3 separate regions of the Homo sapiens genome follow, and regions 2 and 3 are each linked to region 1. The links come from fine-mapping of genetic effects on gene expression. A gene starts in region 1. Each other region holds a variant in brackets. All regions are shown on one strand. Distances are between the middles of the regions. Region 1 holds the start of PROZ (protein Z, vitamin K dependent plasma glycoprotein). Region 2 has its middle 16 kb from the start of MIR8075. Region 3 overlaps MCF2L (MCF.2 cell line derived transforming sequence like).

Evidence for each region.
Region 2: its variant is fine-mapped to the expression of PROZ in monocytes (Quach 2016, PIP 0.91).
Region 3: its variant is fine-mapped to the expression of PROZ in uterus (GTEx, PIP 0.99).

The regions. Positions count from the first base shown.
Region 1 is chr13:113,152,875-113,163,830 of GRCh38, forward strand. It overlaps PROZ (protein Z, vitamin K dependent plasma glycoprotein), which reads left to right and starts at 5,774. Exons shown (of 8, transcript NM_003891.3): 1 at 5,774-5,856; 2 at 7,140-7,303; 3 at 8,074-8,098; 4 at 10,135-10,248. The coding sequence starts at 5,787. It overlaps LOC124903216 (a long non-coding RNA gene), which reads left to right and starts at 1,626. Exons shown (of 4, transcript XR_007063880.1): 1 at 1,626-1,991; 2 at 2,183-2,241; 3 at 2,943-3,006; 4 at 3,656-3,736. It overlaps F10-AS2 (F10 antisense RNA 2), which reads right to left and starts at 1,112. Exons shown (of 3, transcript XM_011537532.4): 1 at 1,040-1,112; 2 at 270-896. The coding sequence starts at 1,112. RefSeq lists a silencer at 1,493-1,542 and enhancers at 5,257-5,834, 6,411-6,988.
Region 2 is chr13:113,273,455-113,284,410 of GRCh38, forward strand. It overlaps the pseudogene LDHBP1. Among named protein-coding and RNA genes, the nearest start is that of MIR8075, 16 kb to the left of the region's middle. RefSeq lists enhancers at 528-1,027, 1,980-2,274. The variant A/C (reference allele first, on the strand shown) is at 4,181.
Region 3 is chr13:113,045,256-113,056,211 of GRCh38, forward strand. It overlaps MCF2L (MCF.2 cell line derived transforming sequence like), which reads left to right. Exons shown (of 30, transcript NM_001112732.3): 4 at 16-106. Among named protein-coding and RNA genes, the nearest start is that of F7, 55 kb to the right of the region's middle. RefSeq lists an enhancer at 5,229-5,815. The variant G/A (reference allele first, on the strand shown) is at 3,477.

The DNA.
Region 1 (10,956 bases):
ACAGAGAGAGATGCTGAGAGACAGACAGGGAGAGGGAGAGAGAGAGGAGACACCAAGACACAAAGAGGGCGGAGAGACAGACACAGAAAGAGGGAGACAGCGGGGCTGGATGGACGTGTGGCCGGGCCAGTGGGGAGGAGAGACGAGTCCGCAGACAGCGTTCAGAGGCCGCGCTGCCTGGGTGCTGAGCCGTCCCGGGGTTCACGGTCGCAGTTTGTCCTTACAAAACGCCCAGCCGCCCCGACCTGTGGTGCTTAGGGAGGACCTACCTGGCTGTGCCGGTCTGAGAAGGGGCCAGTGAGGCCCGGTGCGGGTACGGGCGGGTGCAGATGCAGCCAGGAGGACGGGCGGGAGCGGGGGCCTGTCCCACACGGGGGCCTCGGCAGCACCGGCATGGCTGGAGGCCAGTACGGCCAGGTGTGGCGGGAGGGAGCGCCGTCTGGCTTGGGTCGTCCATCCTGACAGGACGCTGCAAGGGCAGGAGCCCCGCGCCCCGTGTCCTGCGCCCCCGCTCGAGGACAAGCCCCAGCCGCCGGTCTCCGCTGGGTTCCGACAGGCCTTGCTGGGAGGCCTTGCTGGGAGCTGGGGGTCGAGGCTCACAGACTGCGCTGACCCCAGCAGGCACAGCTGGGTCCAGGGACTCGGGAACTCGCAGCCTGACGCGGGCCGGACCCCCGGGGTGGGTGCTGAGGGCCTCGGATGCCCTCCCTGGCTGGACGTTGTGGCTGTGCTGATACTGAGCGGTAACCCTAGGAAGGAGAGTCCCCTGGGCTCAGCTACCCGGGACAAGGTCAACAGGGACACCGGCCCCAGTTCCAGGAGAAAAACAAGCACGGCCAGCGGCGAGTGTGGGCGACAGCAGCTCAGGGAGAAGCAGATTATCAACAGCGAATTCACTCAGGGTCAGCCAACTGTACGCTTAAAAAAAGATTCCTGCGGTAAACTGTATGTCTATTTTACCACAATAAAAAACTTATTGTTTTTAATTACCAATGACTTCTAAAAAATGTTTTTAAAACCCAGATCACAAATCCTGAACATAGGGCCTGAAAGGCGAATTCAGCCACCACGGAGGACTCCCGCACCGTGGAGCCGGGACGCAGGGACTCCATGCTGCGCGGAGGGCAGGGGCACGTGACGCAGGGCGTGGGGGAGGCGGGGCGTGGAGGAGGCGGGGCGCGGGGGGCGGGGCGTGGGGGAGGCGGGGCGTGGGGGCGGGGCGTGGGGGGCGGGGCGTGGGGGAGGGCAGGGGCACGTGACGCAGGGCGTGGGGGAGGCGGGGCGCGGGGGAGGCGGGGCGCGGGGGAGGAGGGGCGTGGGGGGGCGGGCCGTGGGGGAGGAGGGGCGTGGGGGGGCGGGCCGTGGGGGAGGAGGGGCGTGGGGGGCGGGGCGTCGGGGAGGGCAGGGGCACGTGACGCAGGGCGCGGGGGAGGCGGGGCGCGGGGGAGGCGGGGCGCGGGGGAGGCGGGGCGCGGGGGAGGCGGGGCGCGGGGGAGGCGGGGCGCGGGGGAGGCGGGGCGCGGGGGAGGAGGAGGAAGGGTTCTGAGTGGACGCGGGGACTCCATGCCACGCGGAGGGCAGCCGCTCATGAGGCGGGGTGTGGGGGAGGAGGAGGAAGGGTTCTGGAGTGGCTTTTCTACTCCAGAAGTCTCCCCGATCCTGAAAGAAAATCTAGACAGGTGGAAAAAAGAGAAACATGTCCAGATAGTGTCTTCCACATTAATGGTCTCCCAAGCTCTGAGGAAGCCCAATGAGTTGAACAGTTTCTCATAAGCTTGCGGGTCCCTGTCAGTGCTTCTGAGATGCTAAAAACGCCAGGCTGTGGGCTGCGTCACCATGTGTCTCCTCTTTAATTTCTTCAGGAGCTCCAGGTGATAAGCTGCCACCTCCATCCACAATGTGGACATCAGAGGATGCAGCATGCTGTGGTTTGAATGTGTCCCTATAGTGCACGTGTTGGAAACTTAATCCCAAGGCAACAGTGTTGAGAGGTGGGACCTTTAAGACGCATTCATTGTCAGAGCCCACGTGAATGAATTGATACCACTATTGTAGGAGTGGGTTCGTTATTTTGGAATAAAAGGATGAGTTTGGCCCCCTTCCTCTCTCCCCTTTCTCTCTCTCTCTCTCTCTCTCTCTCTCTCTCTCACGCGCATCCACCTTCCACCATGGGATGACGCAGCAAGAAGGCCCTCGCCAGATGGGGGCCCCTGGACCTTTGATGTCCCAGCCTCCAGAACTGTAAGAAATAAATTTCTGTTCTTTATAAATTACCCAGTCTCAGATATCCTGTTACAGCACCACAAAGTGGACTAGACCACACTCTACTCTGTGAATCTAAGACGCACCATTATTGATGAACCTGAAAGAAAGAGCATATACCCAAATTAGCTGTGGGTCAGCTCAGCCTGGAGGCAAGAGGGGGAAGCTCAGATAATCTAAACCACAGGCCAGCCAGGAACCAGCTTTGCAATACATTTACACTATTCACATGGGCTCCCAAAACTCACACAAAAAAATGTATTTAAAGGGATTGCAAAGTGGCAGTGCCCCCAGGGGGCAACATAAAGCACAACCCCTTTCAGGAAGAACTCGGCCTTGTCCAGGCTGACATTAGAACATTGGCTGTAGGGAACAGGCCAATTCAGAGATGTTGAAATCTAAAACATAGGTCCCAGAGTTGATTGAACAGGTATTTAAATAGGGACTGCGGCAAGATCTAAGTATTCAATGACCAGGTTCTCCATAGGCTGCTCATTTCAGGTTCCACACAAAGTTGTGGGGTCAGTTGATTTAAGCTGGGGACCCCCACAGAGGACACCCCAACATCTGAAGGACACGACAAAGACCCCAAAGGAAGGAAGATTCTCCTCAGGTATACAGAAGGAAAGTAAACCAGTCAATGGAAAAAGTGTCCCAATGTTGGTTGGTTTGTTTTTCAGAACAGAAGAGGGTGACAGAAGAACGATTATTCATATGAGAGATGAGGAAGATGAGTAGAACGAGGTGAATCTTAATGTTTGGACAATTTATTATTGTAGAATTTTTGGTCCAAAGGTGGTATCTTTGAGAAGGCAGATGAGAAAATTAAATCACCACATACAACACGGTCAGTCCACGTACAACACAGTCAATCACAGCTGTGGCCTCGATGTTGATGCCTTCCTGTATTAGTCTGTTCTCATGTCACTGTGAAGAAATACTTGAGACTAGGTAATTTATAAAGAAAAGCGGTTTAATGAACTCACAGTTCCACATGGCTGGGGAGGCCTCAGGAAACATAATCATGGCAAGCAGGCACCTCTTCACAGGGTGGCAGGAGAGAGAAAATGTGTGTCAATCACAGGGGGAAGCCCCTTATAAAATCATTAGCTCTTGTGAGAATGCACTCACTATCACAAGAACCACCTCCATGATTCAATCACCTCCACCTGGTCCTGCCCTTGACCTGTGGGGATTATTACAATTCAAGGTGAGATTTGGTTGGGGACACAGAGCCAAACCATCCCCCAAAACTCACGTTGAAACCTAACCCCCTGTGCAATAGTACTAGGAGGTGGGGCCTCTGGGAGGCACTCTGCCTTCATGGATGGATGACTGCCCTCCCAAAAGAGGCTCCAGGGAGCACCCACATTCCTCCCTTCCACCATCCAAGGACACGTCTATGAATCATGGGCCGTCACCAGACACTGAGTCTACTGGAGCCTTGATCTTGGACTTCCCATCCTCCAGAACTGTGAGCACTACGTTTCTGTTTATCGTAAATTACCCACTCTAAGGTGTTTTGTTACAGCAGCCCCAACAGACTAAAATGGTCCATGAGGGAAGAGGTTGTAGCTCAGATACCCATGTCAGGCATATAGGATGTGCTTAATTAACACTTATTGATCGAATGTGTATGTCCCTGTCTGCCTTTCCATTTTTAGGCAGCTATTGATGGTTTTTAAACTATCCAGCAGAAGTATTTTTAATGTAAATTTCCATGTGGGAATACATTTTCACACAAAAAAAGGCACCTTTTCTTAAGTGAAGGCCACGTAGATTGCCAGGCTGGTGCAATTCACCCAAGAGCTATCCTATACAATCAACTTCTGGCTTTCAAATTATTTTAACTCACTCACTAAAGATAAACTTTATTTTCTTTTCCCAGCTTTTTAAAGCAAACTTCACAACTTCAGTGTATTTGCGGGCATGCCCTCTTAATCAAGGGTGTCAGCTTCTTAGTTTTCTTCTGTTCCCACTTTAACAAAATTGTATTTAGAATCCTTTCATTGAGTTTTGCCACCTTTGAGTGTCATTCAATCGAACAATATCTATATGCTGACAATGCTGTCATTTCATCTGTTACCACCTGAATCTCCACTGTGAGTCCCAGCTTCTCGGATGCCCACTCCTGTCTCCACCTGGACATCCCACAGACACCTCAAATTTGCCAAACCTCGCTTCCCTCTGCCCTCCTGGAGCTTGGCCGTCTCAGCACACGCACTGCCATCCTCCCAATCGCTCAGCCCAAACCTTGGAGCCGTGCTGCCCGACACAATTCATCATGAATCCCATCAGCTTTCCCTTCCTGAAGCATCCAGACTGCAAACGTGCTTCCTGCTGCATGGCTGCACCCTCACCCCCTCCTGGACTAGCCGGCAGCCTCCCTTTTGACTTCTCTGGAATGTTCTGTTCTCCACACAGCAGCCCAGTGATCCCTTCAGAGCACAAATCTTTCCATGTCAATTCCTGTTCCCTCCAATATCTTCCCAACACAGTGAAAATGAAACACCAGGTTCTTACCTCAGGCTTCAAGGGCTGATATGGTTTGGCTGTGTCCCCACCGAAATCTTATCTTGAATTGTAATCCCCATAGTCCCCACGTGTCCTGGGAGGGACCCGGTGGGAGGTAATTGAATCATGGGGGTGGTTTCCACCATGCTATTCTTGGGATAGTGAGTGAGTCTCAAGAGATTTGATGGTTTTATAAGGATCTGGCATTTCCCCTGCTTCAGTCATTCTCTCTGCTGCCACCCTGTGAAGAGGTGCCTTCTGCCATAATTATAAGTTTCCTGAGGCCTCCCCAGCCATGTGGAACTGGGAGTCAACTAAACCTCTTTTCTTAAATTACCCAGTCTTGGCTATTTCTTCATAACAGTGTAAGAAGGGACTAATACACAGGGCCTACATCTGAAAGCAGCAAACGACAACCCTGGGGCCAAATCTGGCCCCTTAATAGCTCTTATAAATAAAGCTTTATTGGCACACAGCCAAGTGTTCATTCATGATTGTCTATGCTGCCTCTGCTACAATGGTGCTGAGCTGTAGTGACAGACACTATTTGGCCCTTCCCCGCTTTCTCCCTCCTCCCTCCCTCCCTTCCTTTTCTCCCCTTCCTTCTTTCCATCCTCCTGCTTTCCCTCCCTCACTCCCTCCTGTCTCTTTCCCTCGTTCTTTTCTGTGTATTCCACACACACCTAGAACGTAAGCTGCATGTGACTTTGTCTGTCCCGCCCAGTGCTGTGTCCCCAGGGCCTATCTCACCTCCATTGACCACACACGGGCATGGGTGCCACCTTCCACCTTGCACCTGCTGCCTTTACCTTCTGTTCTCTGTCTCCCTAAATATCTCCCAGGGTCCTCTGAGCCTTCACCGTTCATTTCTCTGCCTGGCCTCAAACAGAAAACGTCAGGAGGGAAGCACACAGCTGCACAGGTCGTGCCCCGAGGCTCCTGCTGCCGGCACCTCCCCCAGCCTGGACTTTGGCTGTGTTTGTAGCCCTGTCCCAGCGCTCCGGGTGGGAATGGCAGGCTGCGTCCCACTGCTCCAGGGCCTGGTCCTGGTCCTCGCCCTCCATCGTGTGGAGCCCTCAGGTAGGCATCTGGCTTACCTGTCTGTTGTGCCTGTGCTGTGTCTTTCTTGACTCGGTCCATGGTGGATTTGTAGATGAGGCTTTTTCCAGGAGCCAGAGGAGCCCTGAGTGCCCAGACTAGTCTTAATTCCCCTGAAAAAGCTGTTTGGATCTTTATCATTTGGTGACAAGTATTTGGGACATGATAGTGTCACTTGGGGTCCTCCCAAGAGATGCCCAAATGGAAAGAAGCCTGTGTGCAGGGGATTCAGCCGGGAAAGGCCGGGGAGAGGGGAGGGGGAAAGGGGGAGGAGTGGGGGGAGGCCTGGGTTGGGCATTGGACGAGGGGAGGGGGTGGGGCAGGCTGAGCCCAGACTGCAATGTGGGCAGAGAGAGCCTTGGCCAGGCCAGCCAGGAATGCCCAGTCTTGAGTCAGGAGACATAGCCAGGGAGCAGCCACCCTGCCTGCCTGCCACCCTTCTACCACCAGCCACTTCACTGAAGGAACGACATGGACTCCATTCTGACTCTGCCTGCACAGGCGTCCAGGAAAGCTGCAAGTCAAAACACCCAGCATCCCCGCTGGCCCCATGGTCTCCCGCTGGCCCCATGGTCTCCCACCCTGAGAGGGTGATCCCCCCGCCCTGCCCTGCCCAGCACTTACCGTAGCCGGACTTAGCTGAGCCCCCCCTGCTGTAACCCTCAGCACCGAGAGAAAAGGAGGGAGGATGGGAAGGGCCTGGGCTTTGACCCTCCCGGAGAGGGAGAGAACATGCTTTGGGACCCTCAGGTGGGAAGAGGCTCCAGAGACCACTGCCGCGGGTCAACTCATTTGCCTTCTCCTCCTGGAAATCGCAGAGCCTGCTGCAATGTATAAGTTTCTTCTTTATGTGTTTTATCAAGATGTTAAATGCTGCGCACAGAGGCAGCACAGGAGCTGATGGCTCTTGGTCCCCAGTTCTCAGTACGGGGACCTTTGACCCCAGCTCAGCCTTCCTTCGCACTCAGACCCAAAACCCAGTTGGAGCCCTCCCTCCTCCACTTTCCTGACTGAGGCCCGTGGCCTCTCTGCAGAACCTTAGTGTATCCGCACTGATCCTGGGGCTGATCCATTCGCCCAGAGGATGAAGTGCTTGCCTACCTCGGGGGAGGGAGTAGCGGGGTGGCCCTGAGGCCCTCGCAGGCTGAGAGCCTGTGGAGACGGACGGGGCTGGGGCTGGCGGCCGGCCGGGGAGGAAGCCAGGCAGCTCTGGAAAGCAGGGCCCTCGGTGCTCCCAGTCACCTGCCTTCTTGTCTCGTCTGTAGTATTTCTCCCGGCCTCCAAAGCAAACGACGTTCTGGTGAGGTGGAAGCGTGCGGGCTCCTATCTTCTGGAAGAACTCTTCGAGGGAAACTTGGAAAAAGAATGTTATGAAGAAATCTGTGTCTATGAAGAAGCAAGAGAAGTGTTTGAAAATGAAGTAGTCACTGTATGTACCCCCACCACAAACCACAGGCCTCCTCATTATTTAGACTTCTGCTGGCCCAGGGAGCATCATTTCTCAGAGATTAAGCTTAATTAATTAGCCTATTTACTTACCGATGAGGTTGACACAATCCCAGTTTTACAGATGAGGAAACAATTTAGAGAATCGACTTAATCCACCTTTCCCTACAGCAGTGAGTGGGGCTGGAAGTCAGCTCAGAGCCCACTGGACTCATTTCTTCAGGTCAGGCAAGGCCCACACACTGATCAGACACCCAGCATACATTTTCTTTCTAGGCTTCAAGTCTGAATAATTCTCCTAATTTTAGATACTCCTACCCCAAACTAAGTGTCCCCACTCCCTACAGAGGTATATATCTTTAAAATTCAACTCGGTTTATAAAAAGCGAAAAGGTGATGTGACTTCTATATCATGTGCTTTTGTGGAGGGTGGCGTGGAGATTGGCCCTAGAAGGGAAGGGCCACGTTAGGGGCTGTGGGTGGTGGGTTTGTGCCATGTCATAGACTCTGGCCTTCCTCAAATAGGTGGTGGTAAGCACATGTTGAGTAATATATCTTACAGATACATTTAGTTACTATACATTTAACATAAACAAATAGGCTGTAAAACAGGAAAATTGTGCATTGTTTCAACCACTATTGTCCTATTAAGTGAATAAAATCAACATTTTCTTACCTTCAAGTTCATCTACAGGAAAGAATATAGAAAAACAAATATCCCATTTGTAACATTTTTATGTTTTAACTCTAAAGGATGAATTCTGGAGACGATATAAGGGTAAGTGGTTTCCTTCGTCTCCTCAGAAGTATTAATTCCTCGGGATGAGGTGCGTGGGTGGGCTTAGGACGCTTCACGACCCCAGCTCAGCGGATGCCAAGCCTCTGGCTCCAGGACCCACGGTGTCTCTCCAGGGAAGGGCAGCTCCGACTCTCCCCAAGGACCAGGTCAGGAAGCCCCCGGGCTCTGCCACCAGGGCCACAGGCAGTGCCTGGTTTGTCTTGCCCAGTGTCTGGGTAGTTTCTTGGCACTCTGGGACATGGGCCACAGGCCAGGAGGGCCCCCCCAGAGCAGCTCCTCCAGCCGCCTGGCTCCTGGGCTCCTGGGAAGCCTCATGCTGCAGCAGGGTCAGAACTCGTCTCAAATTTTGGAAAGTCATGGCCCCGATGGAGACTTTGGTTAGGAGACTCCTCCCAAGGGAGGAGCTCTAGGTGGGCAACTGCAGAAGAGCATGGGACAGAAGTAACACAGATGGAGACCCACGGGGCTGGGGGAGGCCAGGGTAAGGACCCACCTGGGAATGAGTAAGCAAAGAGCTGCAGCCACCACCAGACAAGCACGGGGACAACTGGGCACAGAAGGAAGCGGGAGAGGCAGGGAAGGCCGGAGAAGGGCTGATGGGGCGGGACAGAGGGGACCGCGTGCGGACGAAGAAAGGGCACCCAGCAGAGTGGGAGGCACTGGCAGCCAGGCCTTACATCCGGAGCGGGGAGCGTCCTGGGGGCCAGGCGATGGCATGGGGAGCAGCATGAGCAGGCTCAGTCCCCATTCCTGCCACCCCCTGCCCCCCCGTCCTCCTCCTGCTCAGGTCCCCGTCCCTGCCACCTCCTCACATCCTCCTCCTGCTCAGGTCCCCGTCCCTGCCACGTCCCCCCATCCTCCTCCTGCTCAGGTCCCCGTCCCTGCCACGTCCCCACATCCTCCTCCTGCTCAGGTCCCCGTCCCTGCCACCTCCCCCCATCCTCCTCCTGCTCAGGTCCCCGTCCCTGCCACCTCCCCACATCCTCCTCCTGCTCAGGTCCTCGTCCCTGCCACCTCCTCACATCCTCCTCCTGCTCAGGTCCCCGTCCCTGCCACGTCCCCACATCCTCCTCCTGCTCAGGTCCTCGTCCCTGCCACCTCCCCCCATCCTCCTCCTGCTCAGGTCCCCGTCCCTGCCACGTCCCCACATCCTCCTCCTGCTCAGGTCCCCGTCCCTGCCACGTCCCCACATCCTCCTCCTGCTCAGGTCCCCGTCCCTGCCACGTCCCCCCATCCTCCTCCTGCTCAGGTCCCCGTCCCTGCCACCTCCCCACATCCTCCTCCTGCTCAGGTCCCCGTCCCTGCCACCTCCCCACATCCTCCTCCTGCTCAGGTCCCCGTCCCTGCCACCTCCCCACATCCTCCTCCTGCTCAGGTCCCCGTCCCTGCCACGTCCCCTCATCCTCCTCCTGCTCAGGTCCCCGTCCCTGCCACCTCCCCACATCCTCCTCCTGCTCAGGTCCCCGTCCCTGCCACCTCCCCACATCCTCCTCCTGCTCAGGTCCCCGTCCCTGCCACCTCCCCACATCCTCCTCCTGCTCAGGTCCCCGTCCCTGCCACCTCCCCACATCCTCCTCCTGCTCAGGTCCCCGTCCCTGCCACGTCCCCTCATCCTCCTCCTGCTCAGGTCCCCGTCCCTGCCACCTCCTCACATCCTCCTCCTGCTCAGGTCCCCGTCCCTGCCACCTCCCCACATCCTCCTCCTGCTCAGGTCCCCGTCCCTGCCACCTCCCCACATCCTCCTCCTGCTCAGGTCCCCGTCCCTGCCACGTCCCCCCATCCTCCTCCTGCTCAGGTCCCCGTCCCTGCTCCACTCTGTCCTCCTCCTGCTCTGGTCCCTGTTCCTGTCACCCCACCCTCCTCCTGCTCAGGTGCTCAGGTCCCCGTCCCTGCTGCCACCCCCCACTCCATCCTCCTCCTGCTCAGGTCCCCATTCCTGTCACCACCCCCACCCTCCTCCTGCTCAGGTCCCCGTTCCTGTCACCACCACCCCAACCCCCATCCTCCTCCTGCAGGCGGCTCCCCGTGCATCTCCCAGCCCTGCCTCCACAACGGCTCTTGCCAGGACAGCATCTGGGGCTACACCTGCACCTGCTCCCCCGGCTATGAGGGCAGCAACTGCGAGCTGGGTGAGGCCCCGGCCGTCCCCTTCCCCCAAGGGCCTCCCTGGGCAGGTGGGCCTCACATCCTCGGCCAGAGTCCCAATGGGCCCCTCCTGAGGTGTAGCCATGAAGGTGCCTGTGTGAACCGCGATTTGGCTCACCCCAGGGGATTCCTCTCATCCCAACCAGATTCTCCTCCAGAAACCACGCCGGGGGCTGGCTGCATTCTGAGCTGCCCCTTCCAGACAGGCCCCCATACTTTTCATAGCAGGGGCCCCTCTCCTCCCCCCACCACCTCAACCATTCACAATCTGCTCACAGGCTGGGGGGGTCACACACAGGCGTCCTCAGTGCCAGACTCCCAGTGGGAGACTGCAGACAGGGAAGACGCAAAGCACGTAAACAAATATCCTTAAATACCCGCCAAATGTCAGTGTCCATCATCGCCAACTACAGCAACAAGCGTGCTCCGCTCTCAGCACCACTGGTCAACTTGGAGCCCGTTTCTCTGGGGAAAACCTTCCTCCCAGCCGAGCCCTCTCCTCCGAAGTCCAGATTTCTGCTCCATCTGCCTCCTTGATGCCCCAGCTAATGCCTTCACAGACACCCCAAATTTACCACGTACCAAAGGGGGCTTTGACCTTCACCCACCATGTGCCCCTTTCTTAATCTTCTCCCTCTTGGTGGAAAGCCCCCATCCCAGCTGCTCAGCCACCACCGATGTCACACTAACCC
Region 2 (10,956 bases), 120 kb after region 1:
GAGTTGTCAATTTTTTTTCTTTAAGACAGGTCTCAAGCTCAAGCACGTGTGTTGTGATCTGGGCCCCCATTCGTCAGGCTTCTGAAGTCGTGTTTTTAGGCACAAGCCTGTCCCCAAGTCTATAGCATCTGGTGCACAGTGCTCAGTAAACACTGAGGAGTGAATGAAGCAGGGCCAGTGGAAGGAACAAAGACCAGCAAGATAAGAATGGGGAGAAGTACGAGTGTGACAGAACAAAAGAAGGGAGTTTTAAGGTATGGTGAGAATCAGAAACAGACCATCACGGTGGCATCTCGGGCCATTCAGTTTGTGTGCTGGGCCCGACGGGTAGTGGGTGCGGCGAGATGTAGCTGGAGGCAAGGCAGAGGCCAGGGAGAGCTGCTCTCGGGTAATGAGAATTGAGCAAGCATCAAACTGAGCAAGCAAGAGAGAAAAGGGGAGAATCTGAGCATACGGAAAGGAGAAATAACTGCGGGCAGGTTTCCCAAACAGCAGGGGAAACCACATCCCCGCGCAGCGTGCTCCTCCCAGGGAACAGAACAGGGAAACCACATCCCCGCGCAGTGTGCTCCCCCGGCAGAGGTCCTAAGGAAGCCGAGGGGCGGACAGCCGAGCAGAGGTAAGGCTTTCTGTGGTCCGTGATGGAGGAACCAAGGCCAACTGCAGCACAAGTTGAGGGAGCATTGTACTGAGAAGTGGACGCCTGCCAGGAGTCCACTCTTCACAGAATGAACAGCACCTTCAAGGCACTGGGATCAGCAGAGAAGCTTTAACACTGGCCAGGTCCCCCCTCTGCCAGGTCCTCCATCTGTCACTCTCCAGGTGCCCCTGAGCAAATTCCTGCAATTCTTTAAACCTTGGTTTTCTTATAAGTGGAGATAATAATCCTACTTACCTCATGGGGTGGTTCCAAGTGAACACACACAAAGCTGCTTAGGACACGTACTACACACCAGCAAAGAGGAATGAGTCACAGTCACGCACAAGCACAGTGCCTCTTCATCAGGAAAACCCAGTTCCATACAAATCTAAGTGGCTTATCTTCAGAAACATTAGTGAAGAGCTGAAGCAAACACTGTCAGCTGGGAAGTCTGTATTCAGTGAACATACATTTCTGAATGGAGGCAAAGTATGCCTTTTCAGACAGAGACCTCTAGTAGGAGAAGTGCAGGAGGAAGGAGCTTCAGCTGCTGGAAAGCAAAGCCAGATAGAAGCCAGGGTCTGCCGAAGGCCTGGGGAGCGCCCGCACTTGCAAGCATTTGGGTAGACACTCACACAAATTAGCTACACAATCATTATTTTCTTTAAAAACAACTGTTGAAAGCAAAAATAATATATGTTGGCATTAATACCATATGTAGAAGTAAAACGAATGACACGACACAAAGAATGGGGAAAGAAATGGTCTGGTGAGTGTGATGAGCTAGAGATGCGTGTGACAGCCCTGGGGGAAAGGGGAGATGGTCTAGTGAGTGTGATGAGCCAGAGATGTGTGTGACAGCCCTGGGGGAAAGGGGAGATGGTCTAGTGAGTGTGATGAGCCAGAGATGTGTGTGGTAACCCTGGGGCAGCCACTAACAATACCAGAGAGAGAGGCAAAGAGAGAAAGAACAAGCCAACAGAGGAGACAAAGTATAATTTGAAAGAACACTCAATCCAAAGTGTTGACAAAGAGTCAAACTGTGAAATATTTGAAGAGATTTATTCTGAGCCAAGTATGAGTGACCAATGGCTCATGACGCAGCCTCAGGAGGTCCTGAGAACATGTGCCCAGGGTGGTCAGGACACAGACTAATTTATTTTTAGGGAGACATGAGACATCAATCAAATACATGTAAGATGTACGTTAGTTTGGTCTGGAACAGGGGCTGTGGGAGGCTTCCAGGTTATAGGTAGATCTAAAATGTTTCTGATTGGCAATTGGTTGAAAGAGTTATTATCTAAAGACCTGGAATCAACAGAAAGGAATGTCTGGGTTATAATAAGGGGCTGTGGAGACCAAACTTTCACCATGCAGATGCAGCCTCCAGGTGGCAGGCTTCAGAGGGAACAGATTCTCATGAGGCTTAAAGAGTCTGTTCTATCAATAATTCCAAAAGGCGGTATCATGAGTCATGTCTGACCCCTGCCCCCATCATGGCCGGAGCCAGCCCTTCAGGTTAGCCTTGGAAATGCCCTCCCTGATACAGCGGTCCATTCAGATGGTCTGAGGGGGCTTTGAATTTTATGTTTGTTTTACAAAAGGCAGACAGGAAATTCTTTTTTTTTTTTTTTTTCAGATGGAGTCTTGCTCTGCCACCAGTCTGGAGTGCAGTCATGTGATCTTGGCTCACTGCAGCCTCTGTCTCCTGGGTTCAAGCAATTCTCCTGCCTCAGCATCCCGAGTAGCTGGGCTACAGGTACCCGCCATCATGCCCAGCTAATTTTTATATTTTTAGTAGAGACAGCGTTTCAACATGTTGGCCAGGCTTGTCTCGAACTCTTGACCTCGTGATCTGCCTGCCTCTGCCTCCCAAATTGCTGGGATTACAGGCGTGAGCCACCGCGCCTGGCCTGGAAATTCACTTTTAAAAGGGAATAAAGAACGGATAGGACAAATGGAAATGGAAAGAGGGTGGACTTGAACCTGACCATCTCATTAATTTATTGGTAACAATGACATAAACAACACTCCAGTTAAATGCCAAAGATTTTCAAGCTGTATAGAAAATTAAGACCAAAGTATATGCTGTCTACTACAAAGGCACTGTTATTTCAAGAGAGAGGATCTCACTGTGTCACCCAGGCTGGAGTGCAGTGGCACAATCACGGCTCACTGCAGCTTCAATCTGCCAGGCTCCAGCAATCCTCCCACCTCAGCCTTCTGAGTAGCAAGTGTGCGCCACCACAACTGGCCAATTGTTTATATTTTGTAGAGATGACATCTCACTGTGTTGCCCAGCCTGGTCTCAAATTCCTGGGCTCAAGTGGATCCTCTGCCTCAGCCTCCAGAACTGCTGGGACGACAGGCGTGCGTCACCATGCCCAGCCCAGAGAGTCATTTTAATAAAGACACAGATGAGTTAAAGGATGAAGAAAGACCACGAGACGCACGCAGCTGGCATTGTCTTCTCTGTACAACTGTTACAGCAGTTTCCAGAGCCTACTCTCTCCTGGGCACAAGGGCATTTCTTAAGGAAAGACTCCTTGCACCAGCTGCAGAAGGGGCAACAGGTCCCAAACAAGCAGATCACTGTGGGCGTGTTGGAGAAGCTGGTGAGGCGCGTGCTCTCTGCCTCTGGGAAGGTCTCTGATGAGCTTGCTCTTGTGCGTGCTACGGAAGATCAGTGTAAAGGTGGCATGGTGGATCTGCAGATGGCAGCTTATTTCTTCAGACACCTAAAATTATGGCAGATAAAGATGACTCTGTGACCACTGGGCTCGCACCTGTAATCCCAGCACTTTGGGAGGCCAAAATGGGAGGATCACAAGGTCAGGAGTTCGAGACCAGCCTGGCCAATATGGTGAAACCCCATCTCTACTAAAAATACAAAAAAAATTAGCCAGGTGTTGTGGCGCATTCCTGTAATCCCAGCTACTCAGGAGGCTGAGGCAGGAGAATTGCTTGAACCCAGGAGGCAGAGGTTGCAGTGAGCCGAGATCACGCCACTGCACTCCAGCCTGGGCAACAGAGCGAGACTACGTCTAAAAACAAAAGAGTGAGACAGTCATCTCAACCTGGTACAGAGAGAGCTTGGTTGCATCATAATTGAGGTTTCCAATGCAGTGCACATTCTTACATATGTTGGATTACCCAAGCACTGTGTGATTGGAAGTGGGTGTGATCTGGATTCTGCCACGGATGGATTTGGGGAGAACACAGTGACTCAAGTGTGGCTGTGTGGAGTAGTGTGAACGTGGCAGGTGTTTCTCTCCAGGAATTGAATCCAGAAATGGGAACTAATGATGATCAGGAAACTTGGAAGGAAGTGTATAAGATAGTGGTTGAAAGTGCCTGTGGTCATCAAGCTAAAAGGATATACCGACTGGGCTCCTGGGTGAAGTGTAGCTGATCTTATTGAATCCACGTTGAAAAATCTGTCCAGGGCTCACCCAGTATCAACAATAGTGAAGGGGATGCAGGGCACCAAGAATGAAGCCCTCTGGAGCCTCCCATGTACCCTCACTGCTCAGGGATTAA[A/C]CAGTGTTACCAACCACAGCTAAGGGATAATGAGGTTGTTCTGCTCAAGAAAAGTGCAGATACCCCGTGGGACATCCAAAAGGACCTCAAAGACCTGTGACTCCTAAGCTGTAGAAATTTAAAACCACAGTGAGATGAACCCTGAGCCTTCAGTGTTCATCCATATACATGCATCACCGTTTGCTTTTATCTTCTTCAGTATGTGAATTTGGGCTCACAGAATCAAATCCCATGCTTGATTTCATGCTTGCAATCGAGTCCTTGAACAAATACAATGAACCAAATGAACCATGGTAGCATGCTTCTTAACAAAAAGAAGAGAAGGCTGGGCGCGGTGGCTCACGCCTGCAGTCCCAGCACTTTGGGAGGCCGAGGCGGGCAGATTGCTTGAGCTCATGAGTATGAGACCAGCCTGGACAACATGGCAAGACCCCATCTCTACAAAAAAATACAAGAATTAGCCAGGCATGGTGGTGCATACCTATAGTCCCAGCTACCTGGGAGGCTGAGGTAGGAGGATGGCTTGACCTGGAGACAGAGATTGATTGCTGTGAGCCAAGATCACGCCACTGCACTCCAGCCCGGGCAAGATAGAGCCTTTTTTTTTTCTTGAGATGGAATCTTGCTCTGTTGCCCAGGCTGGAGTGCAGTAGTGCGATCTTGGCCCACTGCAGCTCCCGCCTCCAGGGTTCAAGCAATTCTCCTGCCTCAGCCTCCCAAGTAGCTGGGATTACAAGTGCCCGCCACCCACCACACCTGGCTAATTTTTGTATTTTTAGTAGAGATGGGATTTGGGCAGGCTGGTCTCGAACTTCTGACCTGAAGTGATCCACCCATCTCAGCCTCCCAAAATGCTGGGATTACAGGCGTGAGCCACGGCACCCGGCTGAGACCTTGTCTAAAGAAGAAAGAAGATGAAGAAAGACATACCATGAAGACGAATGCGAAAGATAAGAGTGGCTACATTCAGATCGAAGTAGACTTCAGGACAAGGAATCTCACCAGAGATAAGAGGTACCTTTCATAACGGTAAAACACCGACGTTCATCCCAAGACTTAACCCTAACTGGGCAGGCCTCTATTCACAGACCTCAAAATATGTAAAGCAAAAGCTGATGGGCAGACAAGAGCAACAGGAAACAGGCCTACCCATGGGTACAGCAGGAGTGCTGACCCTCTTCTTTCAGTAACTGAGAGGAGATAGCAGAAAATCAAGAGGGATAGAAAAGACTTGAAAAACACTCTTTGCTAATTGGAGCCAGTTGAGAGTCGTGTATCAGTACACTCAACAATGACAGTCGTGTAGCATTACACCCAACAACAGTCACATAGCATTACACCCAACAATGACAGTCACATAGAATTACACCCAACGATGACAGTCACGTAGCATTACACCCAACGACGACAGTCAGCATTACACCCAGCAACAACAGTCACATAGCATACACCCAACAATGACAGTCACATAGAATTACACCCAACAACAGTCATGTAGCATACACCCAACAACGACAGTCACGTAGAATTACACCCGACGGTCACATAGCATTACACCCAACGACAGTCACGTAGCATTATACCCAACAACGACAGTCATGTAGAATTACACCCAACAATGACAGTCACGTAGAATTACACCCAACGACGGTCACATAGCATTACACCCAACGACAGTCACGTAGCATTACACCCAACAACGGCAGTCACATAGAATTACACCCAACAATGACAGTCAGGTAGCATTACACCCAACAACAGCCGCACACACCAGGATGAGCACGGGTGGCTCATGAAACAAGGGTTAATATATTTAAAGGATTAAAATTATACAGAATGCATCCTCTGACCACAATGAGGTTAGATATCTAACAGAAAGATAACTAAATAACTAAACGGTTAGAAATTCAGCATAGGCTGGGTGCAGTGGCTCATGCCTGTAATCCTAGCACTTTGGGAGGCCAAGGCAGGTGGATCACAAAGTCAGGAGTTCAAGACCACCCTGGCCAAGATGGTGAAACCCCATCTCTACTAAAAATACAAAAAATTAGCTGGGCATGGTGGCGCGTGCCTGTAGTCCCAACTACTCAGGAGGCTGAGGCAGGAGAATCACTTGAACCCGGGAGGCGAAGGTTGCAGTGAGCCAAGATCGTGCCACTGCACTGCAGCCTGGGTGACAGAGTGAGACTCCGTCTCAAAAAAAAAAAAAAAAAAAAAAAAATTAAGCAATATATTTTTGAATAAATCTAATATAAAGAGAAAATTCTAAATAAATAACACACTTGTAAATCAGTAATCCACGAGTCAAAGAAAAATCACAAAGAACATTAGAAAATGTTTTGAATTTGATGAGTATGAAAATAATTGACCAAAAATTTGTCCGATGCACTAGAGCGTGTTTAGAGAGACATTTGTGGATTCAGATGGTTATATGATGCTGTAGACTAGTGTGTACCCCCAAAACTTGTGTGTGGAAATCCTCACCCCCAAGGTGATGGTATCAGGAGGTAGGGCCTTTGGGACGTGACGAGGTCGTGCAGGTGGAATCTGTGAATGGGATTCCTGCCCTTTTAAGAGCCCAGAGAAGTAGCCAGTCCCTTCCGCCATGCGAGGACACAGCAAGAAGGCACCATCAAAGATCCAGAAAGCAGCCCTCACCAAACAATGAGTCTGCCAGCGCCTCAATCTTGGGCTTCCCAGCCTCCAGAGCTGTGGGAAATAAATTTCCAGTGTTTATGAGTCACCCAATGTACAGTATTTTGTTATAGCAGCCAAAATGATCTAACACAACTGAAAACTACAAAACATGGTTGAAAAAAAAGTTGAAGACTAAAATAAATAGAGATGTATACCACATTATTGTCAAACCCAATATTAAGATGTCAGTCTCCTCCAAATTGATAATAGATTCAATCCAGAGCCCAGCAAAATTCTGGCTTTCTTTATAGAAAAATGACAAGCTGATTCTAAAATGTATATGGAAGTGCAAATAGTCAAAACAAATTTTAAAAGAACAAAGTTGGAAGACTTACTCTACCTAATACCAAAGACTTACTATAAATCAAGACATTGTGATATTAGCAAAAGGGGAGACATAGAGATCAACTGAGTTACACAGAGAGAATAAAACTTCATCCACTTACATCAGGTCAAGTTATTTTCAACAACGATGCCAGGCCAGGTACAGCGGCTCACACCTGTAATACCAGTACTTTGGGAGGCCGAGGCAGGTGGATCACTTGAGCTCAGGAATTCAAGACCAGCCTGGGCAACATGGTGAAACCCCATCTTTGCTAAAAATACAAATATTATCTGAGTGTGGTGGCACGCACCCGTAGTCCCAGCTACTCGGGAGGCCGAGGTGGGAGAATCACCCGCCCTGGGAAGTCGAGGCTGCAGTGAGCAGTGATGGCACCACTGCACTCCAGCCTGGGTCATGAGAGTGAGATCCTGTCTCAAAAAAGCAAAAACCAAATAAACAAAAAAATAAAGATGCCGAGGCAATTTTGACGAAAAAGCCAAACTTGTAAAATATTGAAAGAGGTTTACCCTTGAGCCCAGGAGTTTGAGGCTGCATGAGCCTATGATTGTGCCACTGCACTCCAGCCTGGGGGACAGAGCAAGATCCCATCTCAAAAAAAAAAAAAAGAAAAGAAAGAAAGAGAAAGACAGCAAGAAAGAAAGAAAAGAGAGAGAGAAAGAAAGAGAAAGAAAGAAAAGAGAAAGAAAAGAAAGAAAAAGAAAGAAAGAAAGAAAGAAAGAAAGAAAGAAAGAAAGAAAGAAAGAAAGAAAGAAAGAAAGAAAGAGGTTTATTCTGAGCCAATACAAGTGACCATGGCCCAGGGAACAGTTTCAGGAGGTCCTGAGAATGCACGTGAGGTGGCTGGGTTCCAGTTTGGTTTTACACATTTTAGGGAGGCAGAAGTTGTGGGCAAAGGCGTAAACGGATGCAGGTTAGTATACTTTGGTTTGCCTGGAAAGGCAGAGCATCTTGAAGTGAAGGTTGGAAGGGGCTTACAGGTCATGGATGGAGTCAAAGATTTTCTGATTGGCAACTGGTTGAAAGAATTAAAGACTTGAGGTCAGTAGAAAGAAATGCTTGAGATAGGATAAGGGGGTGTTGGGCTGGACGGGGTGGCTCATGCCTGGAGTCCCAGCACTTTGGGAGGCCAAGGCGGGTGGATTCGTTTGAGCCCAGGAGTTTGAGACCAGCCTGGGCAACACAGTGGATCTTGTCTCTGCAAAAAAACTCAGAAAATTTGCTGGGCGTGGTGGCACATTCCTGTAGTCCCGGCTACTCAGGAGGCTGAGGCAGGAGGATCACTTGAGCCTGGGAGGTCAAGGCCACAGTGAGCCCTGATTGTGCCACTGCCCTCCAGCCTGGGTGACAGAGCAAGACCCTGTCTCAAAATAAAATAAAATACATTAAAAAAACTGAAAGCTTGCTCTTTGATAGATACCATTAAGAAAACAAAAAGGTGGCTGGGCACGGTGGCTCACGCCTGTAATTCCAGCACTTTGGGGGGCTGAGACAGGCAGATCACGAGGTCAACAGATTGAGACCATCCTGGCTAACACGGTGAAACCGTGTCCCCACTAAAAATACAACAACAAAAAAAATTAGCCAGGCGTGGTGGCAGGTGCCTGTGGTCCCAGCTACTCGGGAGGCTGAGGCAGGAGAATGGCATGAACCCGGGAGGCAGAGCTTGCAGTGAGCCAGGATCGTGCCGCTGCATTCCAGCCTGACAGAGCAAGACTCTGTCTCAAAAAAAAAAAAAAAAAAAAAAAAAAGGCAAGGCATAGAATGGGAGAAAATATTTACAATACATAGCGCTGACAAAGGATCTGTGTCCAAAATATGTAAAGAACACTCAGAATTCAACAATAAGAAAATAAACCATTCTTAAAAATATGCCAAACATTCTATAAATAGACACTTCACTGAAAAAGATACAAATGGATATCAGACACATGAAAGGACCCTCCATGCCATTAGTTGTCAGTAAAATGCAAATGACAATCACGAGACACTATTACAAAGCTATTATAATTTTTTTAATTAAAAAGACAAATTGGGAGTGGTGGTGCACACCTGTAATCCCAGCTATTTGAGAGGCTGAGGTGGCAGGATCGCTTGAGGCCAGGACTTGAGAGCAACCTGGGCAACATAGCAAGACTCTGTTGCAAAAGACAAAAAAGAAAAAGAAAAAATTAGAAAAAAAGACTGACAATACCAAGTTTTGGCAGAGATGTGGAGACGCTGTTGTGGGGAACATGCAATGGTGCACCCACTTTGGAGAAACAGGTAGCAGTTTCTCCGGAAGCTAAACACGCACCTATCACACGCCCCAGCCATTCCACTCCCAGGTATTTACTGAAGGGAAAGCACGGATCCACAAAAGACCTGCACACAAACATTCACGGCAGCTTTATTTGTAACTACCAAAACAATGGAAACAACAACCCAAATGTCCTTCAACAGGTGCATGAGCAGACGATTATGGTAGAGCCAAACAACGGGATGTGCCTTCGCACTAAAAAGGGTGAAGGCATGCTGCATACAGCAACATGCGCAAGCCTCAAAAACATCACCCAAAGAGAAAGAACCTAGACACAACGAAGTACACACTCTGTGCTTCCAACAAAGTGAAATGCTGTGATACAAAACTCATCTCTTGTGACAAAGCAGACCCGTGGCCGTGTGGGTTTAGGGGTCGGGTGAACCGCAGAGGCCATGCGGGAGCCCTCTGGATTGAAGAAAATGTTTCCTATCTTGATTGGGGTGGTGGTTTCATGGGTATACATACTTGTAAAAATTCTTCAAACTGAGCACCTAAAATGGGTTTATTTTATGTAAACTAACCTCAATGAAGTTGATTTTAAAAGTTAAAAGAGGCCAGGTGCAGTGGCTCACGCCTGTAATGTCAGCACTTTGGGAGGCAGAGGCAGGCAGACCACTTGAGGCCAGGAGTTCAAGACCAGCCTGTCCAACATGCCGAAACCTCATCTCTACTAAAAATACAAAATTAGCCTAGCTTGGTGGCACATGCCTGTAATCCCAGCTACTTGGGAGGCTGAGGCAGAAGAAACACTTGAACCTGGAAGGCGGAGGTTGCAGTGAGCCAAGATCATGCCTCTACACTCTAGCCTGGGCAACAGAGCAAGACTTTCTCAAAATAAAATAAAAATTAAAAGAAAAAATGGAAAATGAACGAGGCATTTTTACCTAGCTCTACTTAGATAAACTAATAGTTCCTCATTGAGGATCTTTTTCAAAGTCAGTGCCATGGTCATCGTGATCTTTCTTAATGGTCTTGTCTGGATCCTAAAGTTTTCTTCTTATGAAACAGAAACAGACAATGGCTAGATTAACTGATGACTGATGCCTCCAGGTAGCCTTCCTAACAGATACCACCTGGAGACCACAGATGGACATGTGTCTGCAGGTCTTTCGTCACACCCTTCCTCTCATCACCATCTCCTCAGGCATGACGTGAACACGGTTCTGACATGTCTGTCCCGTGATGCTCAGTTCTGCTGCATGGCAACAGTAACATAGAGCCTTTTTTTTCTTTTTTTTTATTTTTATTTTTTTTTTGAGACAGTCTCGCTCTGTCGCTAGGCTGGAATGCAGTGGTGCGATCTCAGCTCACTGCAACCTCCACCTCCCAGGTTCAAGTGATTCGCCTACCTCAGCCTGCCGAGTAGCTGGTATTACAGGTGACTGCCACCACACCCAGCTAATATTTGTATTTTTAATAGAGACGGGGTTTCAC
Region 3 (10,956 bases), 110 kb before region 1:
TCTTCCTCACTGCAGCCTGCAGGACGCTGGCATCGGATTCATCCTGGTGATAGACCGGCGACGGGACAAATGGACCTCCGTGAAGGCGTCCGTCCTGCGCATCGCAGTAAGTGCCACCCGGGGCTCTGCCCTGCGCCCGGCCCCTCCCTGGGCTGCATGACCGCATGGTGCCCTTCCTCTGTGTCTGCCGCAGTTCCTGCTTTGTGCTGAGTGGGACAGAGCCCAGTCCCGGCGGGTGGAGGCCGGCGCCAAGGCCCCCCCTGCTTGGGCTCCCAAGGCACTGGTGCCTGGGTGTGAGTTTTCCCAGATGAAGGAACTCTTAGGGAGCCCAATGTGACTTGCAAACAATTTCCCCAGGCAGAGCAGCCCATATGTTTCCGAACACCAAGTCTGAGATGCTCGGGACTGAATATGCCTCTTACATATTTATACATTAGTGATTTTCTCCTTTCCAAATCGGGCCATCTATCTTTAGCTGTGACACTGAACGAGCCACCACCGCCTCCCTTCCCCAGTGGGATTGAACATGCACTTCCTCTTACACAAAGCACAACAGTCCTGACCAGGCAGGACGGGGGCTGTGTGCAGAGACGCTCCAGGCTGGAAGTTGGAAGTGGTACTGCACAGCTTTCCTATGTGATTTTCTCCTTTCCAAATCAGGCCATCTAGCTGCGACACTGAACTAGCCACCACCGCCTCCCTTCCCCAGTAACCCAGCCTCGCATGTAGCCACCCTCCTTTCCAAGGACTTTCCCTTGGCATCCGAGAGTCTGTTTGCAGATTCTGCACGCTGCCTTCCATAGCAGAAGGGGAGCTGGGTTTGCTGTTGGTTTTAACCCAGAGTAATCATTTAAGAGGGAAGAGATTAAGTCAGCAGAAGCCCCCAAATCTTATTTTTGTCGGTAGCTCCCACCCGTATGCATGACCCCGGCATGGAGCATTTTTCACCCACGCTCGCTCTCCCCGCCTGTCCGTCCAAATTTCATTGCTGCCAAAGGACCAAAAAAGGCTGCCTGTCTGCCAAGAGGTGACCCAGAGCCTGGGTCCAGGCACCTGCATGTTCTCACGCCCGCCACAGCCCGTCCCTCCCAGGCTCTGGGACCCTGGGTCCTCAGCTGTGATGGCACAATTGCTCCAAGCATTCCCCAGCACCAAACCCCAGTGAAGTCAGATTCTCCCAGTGAAGTCAGATTCTCCTGGCCTTTCCTGGGTCCCGCGTTCAGACTACCTTTGGGTTCCCCAGCCTCTCGGTGGCTGCTGGCTGGTGCGCCAAGGTTTGAGGTATACTGAAAAAAGTCATTCCTTTCCCCGCACATTGCCTCATTCCTTCATCTTTTACAAGAATTAGAGGCCCCATATCTGCTCCGATGCCCACAACCTTCATCGTTTTGGTGCAAGCCTGTCCCTGAGCCGCTGGTTCTCATCGAAGTCTTTAGGATGAGGCATCTCCTTGCACCCCCACGGCACCTCTCTGCCCCTCGCCGCGGCGGATCCCCGTTCCTGACCCTGACTCAACCTGGCACACACCACCTATGGCATCGTTATCTGAAATAATTCAAAACGCTTCAGGATGCTTCCAAAAAAGTAGACGTGTATAGAATCGGTCTTCCTTTGTTTTAACAGTGCGTTCGTTTGCTTTTGCGTCACTATAAAGACGTACTTGAGCTGGGTAATTGATAAAGAAAGAGGCGTAATTGGCTCACAGTTCTGCAGGCTGCACAGGCTTAGCACCTGCATCTTCTCAGCTTCTGAGGGGGCCTCAGGGAGCTGCCAGTCGTGGTGGAAGGCAGCGGGGAGCCGGCATCACATGGTGAGAGAGGGAGCGAGAGAGAAGGGGGAGGTCCCAGACTTTTGAACAGCCAGATCTCCAGTGAACTTACTGAGCGAGAACTCACCCGTCACCAAGGGGATGGCGCTGAGCCATTCATAAGGGGTCACGCCCAGACTTAATCACCTCCCACCAGGCCCCACCTCAGCACTGGGAATCGCATTTCAACATGAGACTTGGAGGGGACAAAAATCCCATCCATATCAAGCATCCCCAGAAATGCAGAAAGTTCTTTAGATAAAAGCCATCACCAGCTAACAGCCATGTGTGCCTTTCATTATTGTACGTCTTAAATGAGTTTGCACATGAAGTCATAGGCAACTCTAAAAATTAAATCATAAGAACCCACGGGGTCAGACACACATGGACGGACAACAGATACTCTTGGGAAGCACCCATCCGTCCTGGGCGGGTCCCACAATGCTCCCAGCAGGCACGTCGTCGTTTAAACAACAGACAACACCGTTACAGCCGCATCTTTTATGCTTACCTGCCGCTGATATAAACCAGCCATCAGGACGACTCTTAGCAACACGTGGGTGTAGGAGTCGGCCTCCCTGCCAGGGCACTTGCGGTGTCAGGACGCACCTGGGTGCCTTTCATGCCCGTGGGGTCCAGGCACCTGCATCTTCACACACCTGCCACAGCCCGTCCCTCACACGGCTCATGCCTCACTACATGTGCCCCGTCCCCTCTGCTCACGCCTCGCTACGTGTGCCCCGTCCCCTCTGCTCACACCTCGCTACGCGTGCCCTGTCCCCTCTGCTCACGCCTCACTACGCGTGCCCCAGAGCCTCCGCTGATGCCTCGCTACGCGTGCCCCGGCCCCTCCGCTGACGCCTCGCTACGCGTGCCCCAGTGCCCTCGCACACACATCACCACGTGTGTGTCTCAGATTAATCAGTCACTCCCGGGTTAGATGACAAGAGCTTCCCCAGATACGAGGTTACTTTTTAAGAAATACAAAAATCATTTTCTAAAAGCAAAGTATTTCTGCGAGGTCACCCTACAGGATAGCGAAGCAGCCCACAGCAGACCCGTGATTTAGGTGTCGATCTTCAGCTGCCGAGTGTCCTGTTCCGTTCACCGAGTGTGTGATCGGATGAATTTCTTAAGCAGGTTGGCTCATCTTGAAAGCTCTGTCTTGTGAGCATCATAACTGAACAGTTAGTGTTTTAGTTTTTATTTTTGCATTGATTCTTACACCATAAAAATATGGCTTTTTCTGTCCTTCCTTTAATTCTCAGAATTGACCAACATTGGTTTGGAAGTAACAGAAGCCAGCATTTTCCAGCAAAATCACCCAGAATTCTCTCTGAACACCAGTGCTTTCTTGCTATAATAATTTACGGTCTTTTTTTTTTTTTTTTTTTTTGAGACGGAGTCTCATTCTTTCGCCCAGGCCGGACTGCAGTGGCGCGATCTCAGCTCACTGCAAGCTCTGCCTCCCCGGGTTCACGCCATTCTCCTGCCTCAGCCTCCCAAGTAGCTGGGACTACAGGCACCTGCCACCACGCCCGGCTAATTTTTTATATTTTTAGTAGAGACGGGGTTTCACCCACGTTAGCCAGGATGGTCTCAATCTCCTGACCTCGTGATCCGCCTGCCTCGGCCTCCCAAAGTGCTGGGATTACAGGTGTGAGCCACC[G/A]CGCCCGGCTTATGGTCATATTAATACACAGACTCTGTGTAGTTAGCACGTCCTGAGGCTTTTCTCTGTCCCAGGCACTGCCTGGGCATCACGGATGTGAGGGAGGAAGTGAGCAAGGCTCACCGCCAGCTGGGTGAGGACAGTTGAGGGGCATCACAATGGGGTCACAGGCAGGGGCAGCAGGGAGCAGCCAGGAGGGTGGCTGAGCCATGGGGAGGGGGCAGAGTTAGGCCCCACATGCCAGGCCCCATCCACCTGGGCTGTGACCCTGGAGAGGGCGTCTTCCTGTCCCCAGGCCCCTGCTACCCAGGAGCCCGCCGCCTCCAGAAGGGTTTGGTGCAGGAGGGGCATGAGAAACCGGCAGGAGATGATGATGGTGGACATTGGATGGGCCAGGAGACATGGAGCTCACAGCCCTGGTTTCATGAAGGAGAAGTGGGCCACAAGGCCAAGGAGGCAGGAGGCGGGCAGTGGTGGCACTGTCATAGGAGCTGGTTGTGCATGTGCTGAGGCTTAGAGGGTCACTGGTCAAGGGAGTGAGGGCAGCTGTGGACCCAGCCAAGCCTAGGTCCTGGGCAGACCAGGAGGGGTGAGGGTCTCTGCAGTGGGGAAGGGGTGGGTGGTGGGGCTGGCGGGGAGGCCCCAGGCTCTGTCCATGAGCCACGCACTCCTTGGAGAGGGCAGACCAGGGATGACCCCTTGGGCATCTTGATTCAGTTTTTTGGAAATGGTGCAGTTGACCTGACGTGGGGACACCAAGTAGTGGCTGCAGCGGGGCACCTGGACGCCAACCCCTGGGCTCCAGGCCTTGACAGCGAGCTTTGGCTGGCCTAGGCTTCCACCTAAAGTGGCTTTGGGAAAACTAGCACTTAGCAACAGTCCAGGCCAGCCGAGCCCTCAAGCAGGTTTCCAAACAGGCACAGGCTCCAGCTGCCCGACCCCACCAGGGTGCCCAGCTCATGGTGCTGCGGGCGCCACAAAGCAAGCCCGTGGCAGAGACTTGCCTCCAAGCGCTCGGCCACCGAGGAGGACGCAGCGCTTACATAATGTGCCGGGATCCGGGGCTATTTTTAGCCACCATATGTGCTGTCTTAAGAGCTGAGCTCTCCCTAATTTGGGGTGTTCTTTTTTCTTTTCTGGATGCCTTCAGCATGGCTTGGAATAGAAAAATTAGACATTGGAAGAGCCAAAATCCAGTGTTCCTAAAACCAGGCTCCCAATCGAGAGCAAGACCCATGTGATGCTGAGGGCGTGTGGGAGAAGGATAGGTTCACAGCTACCCACCCAGGGGGCAGAAAGATGAGATCCTCTGAGAACTCACGTCTCTTCTCCCTTAGGCAGTTGTGCGGTCCTCAGATAGAAGCATCTTTTATAAAATGCTGTTGCAACATCTAACCCTCTTCCACTGTACTGCATGTGTGAGTGTGTGAGTGTGAGTGTGTGACTGTGTGTGTGTGCGAGCGAGTGGGAGTGTAAGTGAATGTGAGACTGTGTGAGTGTGTGAGTGTGTGCGCGAGTGGGAGTGTAAGTGAATGTGTGTGAGACTGTGAGTGTGAGAGTGTGTGTGTGTGAGAGTGAGTGTGTGTGTGCGTGTTCACATTTTGGGAATTTGTAATAGAGTATATATATTCATGTTTAGAGCTAGCCTAAATCAAACTAAATCTAGATCCTCAAGTAGGTGGCTGGAGAAAGTGAATCTGATTTTTAGACTGCATGGGGCCACAACTCTCTTTCCTGTAACGCCGGTGCAGTCTGTGTGTGCAGGAAAGGTAGAAAACAAGGTGTCTGAGGGACCCCGGACTTCTAGGTCGTCCAGCAAATCTTTCACATTTGCAAAGTACGATTGTATGCGGCCCCCCTGTGCCAGCTACTGGGGCTCTGGGGAGGAGCTCACCGTGGGGGCGGTGGGGGCGGTGGGAGCCGTGGGGGCCGGGGCGGTGGAGGGGGGGGTGGCTGGGGGAGCGGGGAGGCGGGAGGAGCAGGGGGGGCGGGGGCGGGGGGGGCGGGGGGAGCGGGGGGGTGCGGGGGGCGGTGGCGGGGGGAGGGGGGCGGCAGGGGGCGGTGGGAGCGGTGCTAACTCCAGGAGGACTTCCCGGCGGAGGTGATGCTTGGTGAGAGCCTGACGGGAGGAGGAGTTGTCCAGATGGAGGGGGGCGAGGAGCTTCCCCTGGGAACACAAAGCAGCTGGCTGCCGAGGGAGAGAGGGCCAGGTCCGTGTGCCCCTCTCGGAAGAGGCGAGACCGTCCCCCAGGGCAGGGAACTGAAATGCGCGCTGCATAACTGCGGCGACACGGGGGTGGGGGACCCAGCTCTTCCCGGTGTGGCTGAGCTTTCTCAGAACACCGCTGCTGTGTGCAGCAAGCACCTGCCCAGGTGAGCACAGTCCCCCCGTGGTGGACAGAAGGGGACCAGGATCTGCAGGCTGTCTCCTCCGCACCAGCTGCTGTGGCAAATGCGTTTCAGCGCACCCTGCGCGTTCACCAACCGCCGATTACAGGGGAGGAGCTGGGCTTCGGGGCGACGAGGGAAGCTGCCGATGGGGTGGGGCGGCTCTGGGGGCGGCCTGGGCCTTTCTGTCTCTGAAGCCCGAGCTCTCTCCCTACTCCGGTGGTCCCAGGGCCACGGCGGTGGGCGGTGCCGGTCATGCAGAATATTGCAGGGGGAGGCAGCCCGTGAGGCTTCCACGACGCTGAGAGCGTCTATTTAAACGACTGTCCTTCATCCGAGGGTTCGCTCCTCCCACCTAAGGGTGGATTTGACAGCCTTGGGGTATCCAGCAGGGGTGGGAGATCCAGAGGCCCCAAGCCCTTCTTCACTGTGTATTTCCTGGAACATGGAATCCAAGGGTCCAATAACGGGCGGCACGAGCCACTTTGCTCTCTCTAAAGACCTCGGAGGCGACACAGTGAATAACAAGGTTGTCTTAGTCCGGGTCTGCTGCTTATATGTCAAGAGTATCTGAAACTGGGCACTTTACAACGAAAAAGAATTCATGCCTTACAGTTGAGGAGCCTCACCTGGTGAGATCCCTCTTGCTGGTGGGTCCTGAGGCGACGCGGGACCTCACCTGGCGAGGGGAGAGTGAGCCAGCCCAGGGCTGCCCCCGCTGCTTACAAAGCCACCAGGCCCCCACCCACCCCCACGACAGCCCGTTAATCCGAGAATCCGTGAATGGATGAATCCATTCATGAGGGTGGGGCCGTCCTGACCCAGTCACCTCTGAAAGGTACTGCCTCTCAATGCTGCCATGAGTTTCGAAGTTTGGTAGGGACGAACATTCCAACCACACCAAATGTATATTTCAGAATTGCTAAAAGAATCCATTTTAAATGTTCTCAGCACAGAAAACTGGTGAGTGGGTGAGGTGACAGATCGGTTAATTGGCTTGATTTAATCATTCCACTGAGGATACCTATAGCAAAACATCACTGGGTGCCCCGTAAGTAGATACAATCATGATTTGTCAGTTAAATGTAGAAACATTTTTTTAAAAAGATAAACAGAGAAAAAGAAAGAGCTCTGAGACCCGGGCTCGCTCAGCGGTTTTTTCTCGCAGAGAAGAGGAAGGAGCCCGGGGGTCCCTGGGACCAGGTGCCTCATGAGGCTCCGTGTGGGCCGTGGACCCTGCAGGCCACGCCGGCTTCCCTGACTGATAAACCCAGAGCCAGGCCTTGCCGGTGAGAGGCCAGGGACTGCTGGCTGAGCTTCTCCAGCGCTGCTCTTCACTCCCCTGGATGCCTGGAGCGAGACTATTTGCCTGGTTTATTTTTTTCAGCTTAGAGCTCGTTGCACGGAGTCAGAACCCCTGCATCCCGGTGGCTCAGGCATTTGAGTGAAGGTCGGATCAGGAGGGAGGGGAGATGCAGCTGCCCCACGCATGGAGGAGAAGAGCTGTGAGCTGCAGCAGCCTCGTGTCTTTTTCCTCTCAACTTTCAGTTCAGAAAAATTTCAGACCTACAGAAAACTTGGGAGAGTCTCACAGTGAACAAACCTCAGCTGTGGCCATAAACAAAGTGCCCATTCGTGTGTGTGTGTGTGCGTGTGTACAAAAACACACAGACATAGACACAGACATGTACACACATCACACAGACACATCACACAGACACAAAACACATCACATAGACACATACACAGACACACACATATATATACACATATACCCACACATACATCACATAAACACACACACATATCACACAGACATGCATACACTCAGAGACATACATCACACAGGCACAGAGACACACATCACACACAAACACACACATATATGCACATATACACACATCACATAAACACAGACACACACACACATTTTGCTGGTGAGAGCCGGCTCTGCCATCGTGTCAGTTCATCCCGGATTGCTGACATGGTGTCTCCTGAGTGGAGCTGCCCTCTGCATAACCACAGGCGAGTCTGCATCGCGGCCACACTGCCCTCTGGATGCCCACACATGGGGCTTTCTCCACGTGCCCCGTCATGTCCTTCCTGTATTTGTTAAAATCCAGGTCCAGTGAAGGACGGCGCCCCCGTCAGCTGTCCACCCTTCTCAGTCGTCTCTAATCCACCCAGTTGTTGGTTTTTGTTTTGCTTTCTGTCTTTTGTGAGATTGAGATTTGCGAAGGGTTGAAGCCAGTTGCTTTATGGAATATCCTTTCATCTGGTTTCCTTGTAATTAGGTTCCACGTGGTCCTTTGGGGCGGGAATCCTGGTGGGTGAGCTTCTGGGGCAGCCCGTGGAGGCCCAGGATGTCCATGTGTCCCGTGATTGGGGCGGTGTTGTGTGCTCAGACGGCCAAGGAGGCGTCCGGATTTCCCCAGGAGAAGGTGCCTCTCCTCTTGGTAATCAGTGGGTCATGTGTGGTGATGCTCAGGACGGGGCGAAGGTCCCGTGGCTGAGGTGTCCACTGACCGTTTCTGCCTGAATGGGTGGTTCGGTGGTGGTTGCCACAGGGCTGTGTTTTCAAGGGGAGCAGCAGGTGCCTGGCGTCTGCATCCACACCTGCCTGGAGCCTCCTTCCATTTGTTACTCTGTCTCCTCCTGTGTCCCTGCAGCTGTGTCTCCAGTGATCTTGCCTGTACTCTCCGCCTCTGCAGAGTGAGGTTTTCACTGATTGCAAAGTAAACATGCACGCCCCTTCAGGGTCCTGGTCCTTAGGGAGCTGGTTAACAAGTTGACCAGAAAAACAACCCGAATACTCCTCAACTCTTGATGGGAGCTCAGTTCACACGGCTCCGAATCGGCGAAACGCAACCAACGCTGGGCAGAACCTTGGCACAACTTTGCTGGTGTCTGCTGAGAAGCCGAGGGGAGGTTCTGGGGCTTGGCTTGAGCTGCGGGGTGAGTGTGGGAGAGACGGCGAGCTCCCTCCCATCAATCAATCAACAGACTGTCCTATTTTCATAGTAGTCCCCACCCAAATGTCATTCGAGTCCAATCTCAGGATCCTGGATGCACGCCTGTTCTCCAGGTCTGCTTCCCGTGAAATTCGTGGAGATTATTGTACATTCGGGAGTGGGAGTGCGATTGGATGTGTGTCTGCAGATTCTCCCTGTATTTTCTCCCAGGCTTTCTAGAGGACCATTTGCTAGAGGACCAGTCCCCAAACGGCCGCGCTTTTAGGATTGGTTTTAGGAGTGATGGCCTCACGCACACGGCAGCGGCCATTCTGAGCACTCGTGTCTGAACATCTGCAGGAACAGGGTCCACGCCCATTGTTTTCCTCACCCGGTCCAGCGTCTCTGATTCCGGCTCTAACGTCTTCTTCATCTGTTAACACAGAGACACAAACAAACTTTCAAATGCATATTTTTTATATAAACTTGTGTTTACTGTTTGGCTACTGTCAGACAAATGTAGTTGGTGAGGTTTCAGTTGCTCTGAAATTAAATATATAATGTCAAGCTGGATAGGTGTGGCTTGGAGCAGACCTTAAGGAAGGTGATTTGAACTTGGGGAGGGTTTTTCAAACAGGGTTCCCCAAAGTACCCAGTTCTACAAAGTTCCCAGCATGTCCTGTTGCTTTAGCTGCATTGGTAAATACATGCAGCGATTGTTTTCTGAGTCTCTAAGAATATTAACTCAGAAACCAGTGAACTCTTTTTCTATCTCCAGACTACAGTGCTGTGGTCATCACACATATCTGTTCCTAAGTTCATCCAGGTCAGCCCAGAAAATGAGCAATATTGTTTTCATGTTAGATAGAAACCTATAGGATTACTTTACTGTTGAGTAATTTACAAAAAGACTTGACAGCCTCCATCCCAAATTCTTCATCCAGTTACCATTTATACTTACCCCCATCTTTTAAAATAAAGTTTTTATTTTAGAACTTTCCCCAGCTTTTAATACAAACGGTCAACTCCAATTCAGAGAAAATTTTATTTGCTGTTATATTTATTCAAAGTATGTGTTTGTGTACATCGTTAGCACCTTCTCACTCAGCTAGGATCTTCCAATTTATTCTATTTAATATAATGATCCAATAACTTAAAATACGAAACCCTAAAACTGAGCCAAGGAAGAGGGGGTCATGTTTGATGCTGGCAGAGCCTCAGGGACCAGCCTTGCTGCAGGGGTATGCTTCACTCCCAGAGGCTTTAGGGGCAAATAGTTGCACCTGCTGGAGACGTGGACCCCCCCCCCCGCCACACACACACACACACACACACACACACACACACACACACACACACACACACACACACACACCTGGCTTCATCTCTGAGCTTCAGGCTCTCAGCTTGTCCTTAAAGATCCAGGTGATAAAAACGACAGTGAAACGTAGAAGAGCGTGATTCATCGCACCATCAGAAAAAGACTGGTTTTCCGTAAATAGTGGTGTCCAATTTCACAGCAGTGTGAGGGATTTTCAGTCCGCCCCTTGCTGAGACACAGAATCTGCCCTGGGGCGTCCCACTCTTTGGGGCTTGCTTCTCGAAGGAGGACTGCCCAGGCGCCTCGTCCACCAGGATCACACTCCTGGCAGATGCTCAGCTCACGATTCCCTGCTTGTAATTCAGCCTGTCCGTCACAGCATCTTACCCACACGTGCTCCCTGCAGAAGGTGAATGGCTGTGGCCTTAGTCTATGTCCAGGCGTCGTGTGAGATGGTGGGGCAGAGAGGGCGCAGATGCAGGGCCCCTCCAGAGCACTTCCCTGGGGGCCGAGGCTGGAGAGAATGGGTGTGGAGAGCAGCGGAGACAGGAGAGTCCCCCGGAAGCCATCAGCCTCCCCTCCCTCATCCACTCCGCAGCAGACACCCGCAGAGGACCTGCCAAGTGTGCCGGCCACTGAGGGCCGTGGTCCCTGCCCTCCCCACGCAATGCAGATGAAGCAGAGGTCTCCATGGGAGGGGTCCTGTGGGAAAGGTGTGCAGTGTCCACCCAGTGACAGGACATTGTCCACCTGCCCTGGACGGGGAGGGCAGCCGCCCAGTGACCGAGCCCTTAGTTTATGCACAAGGGGCAGGGGCACA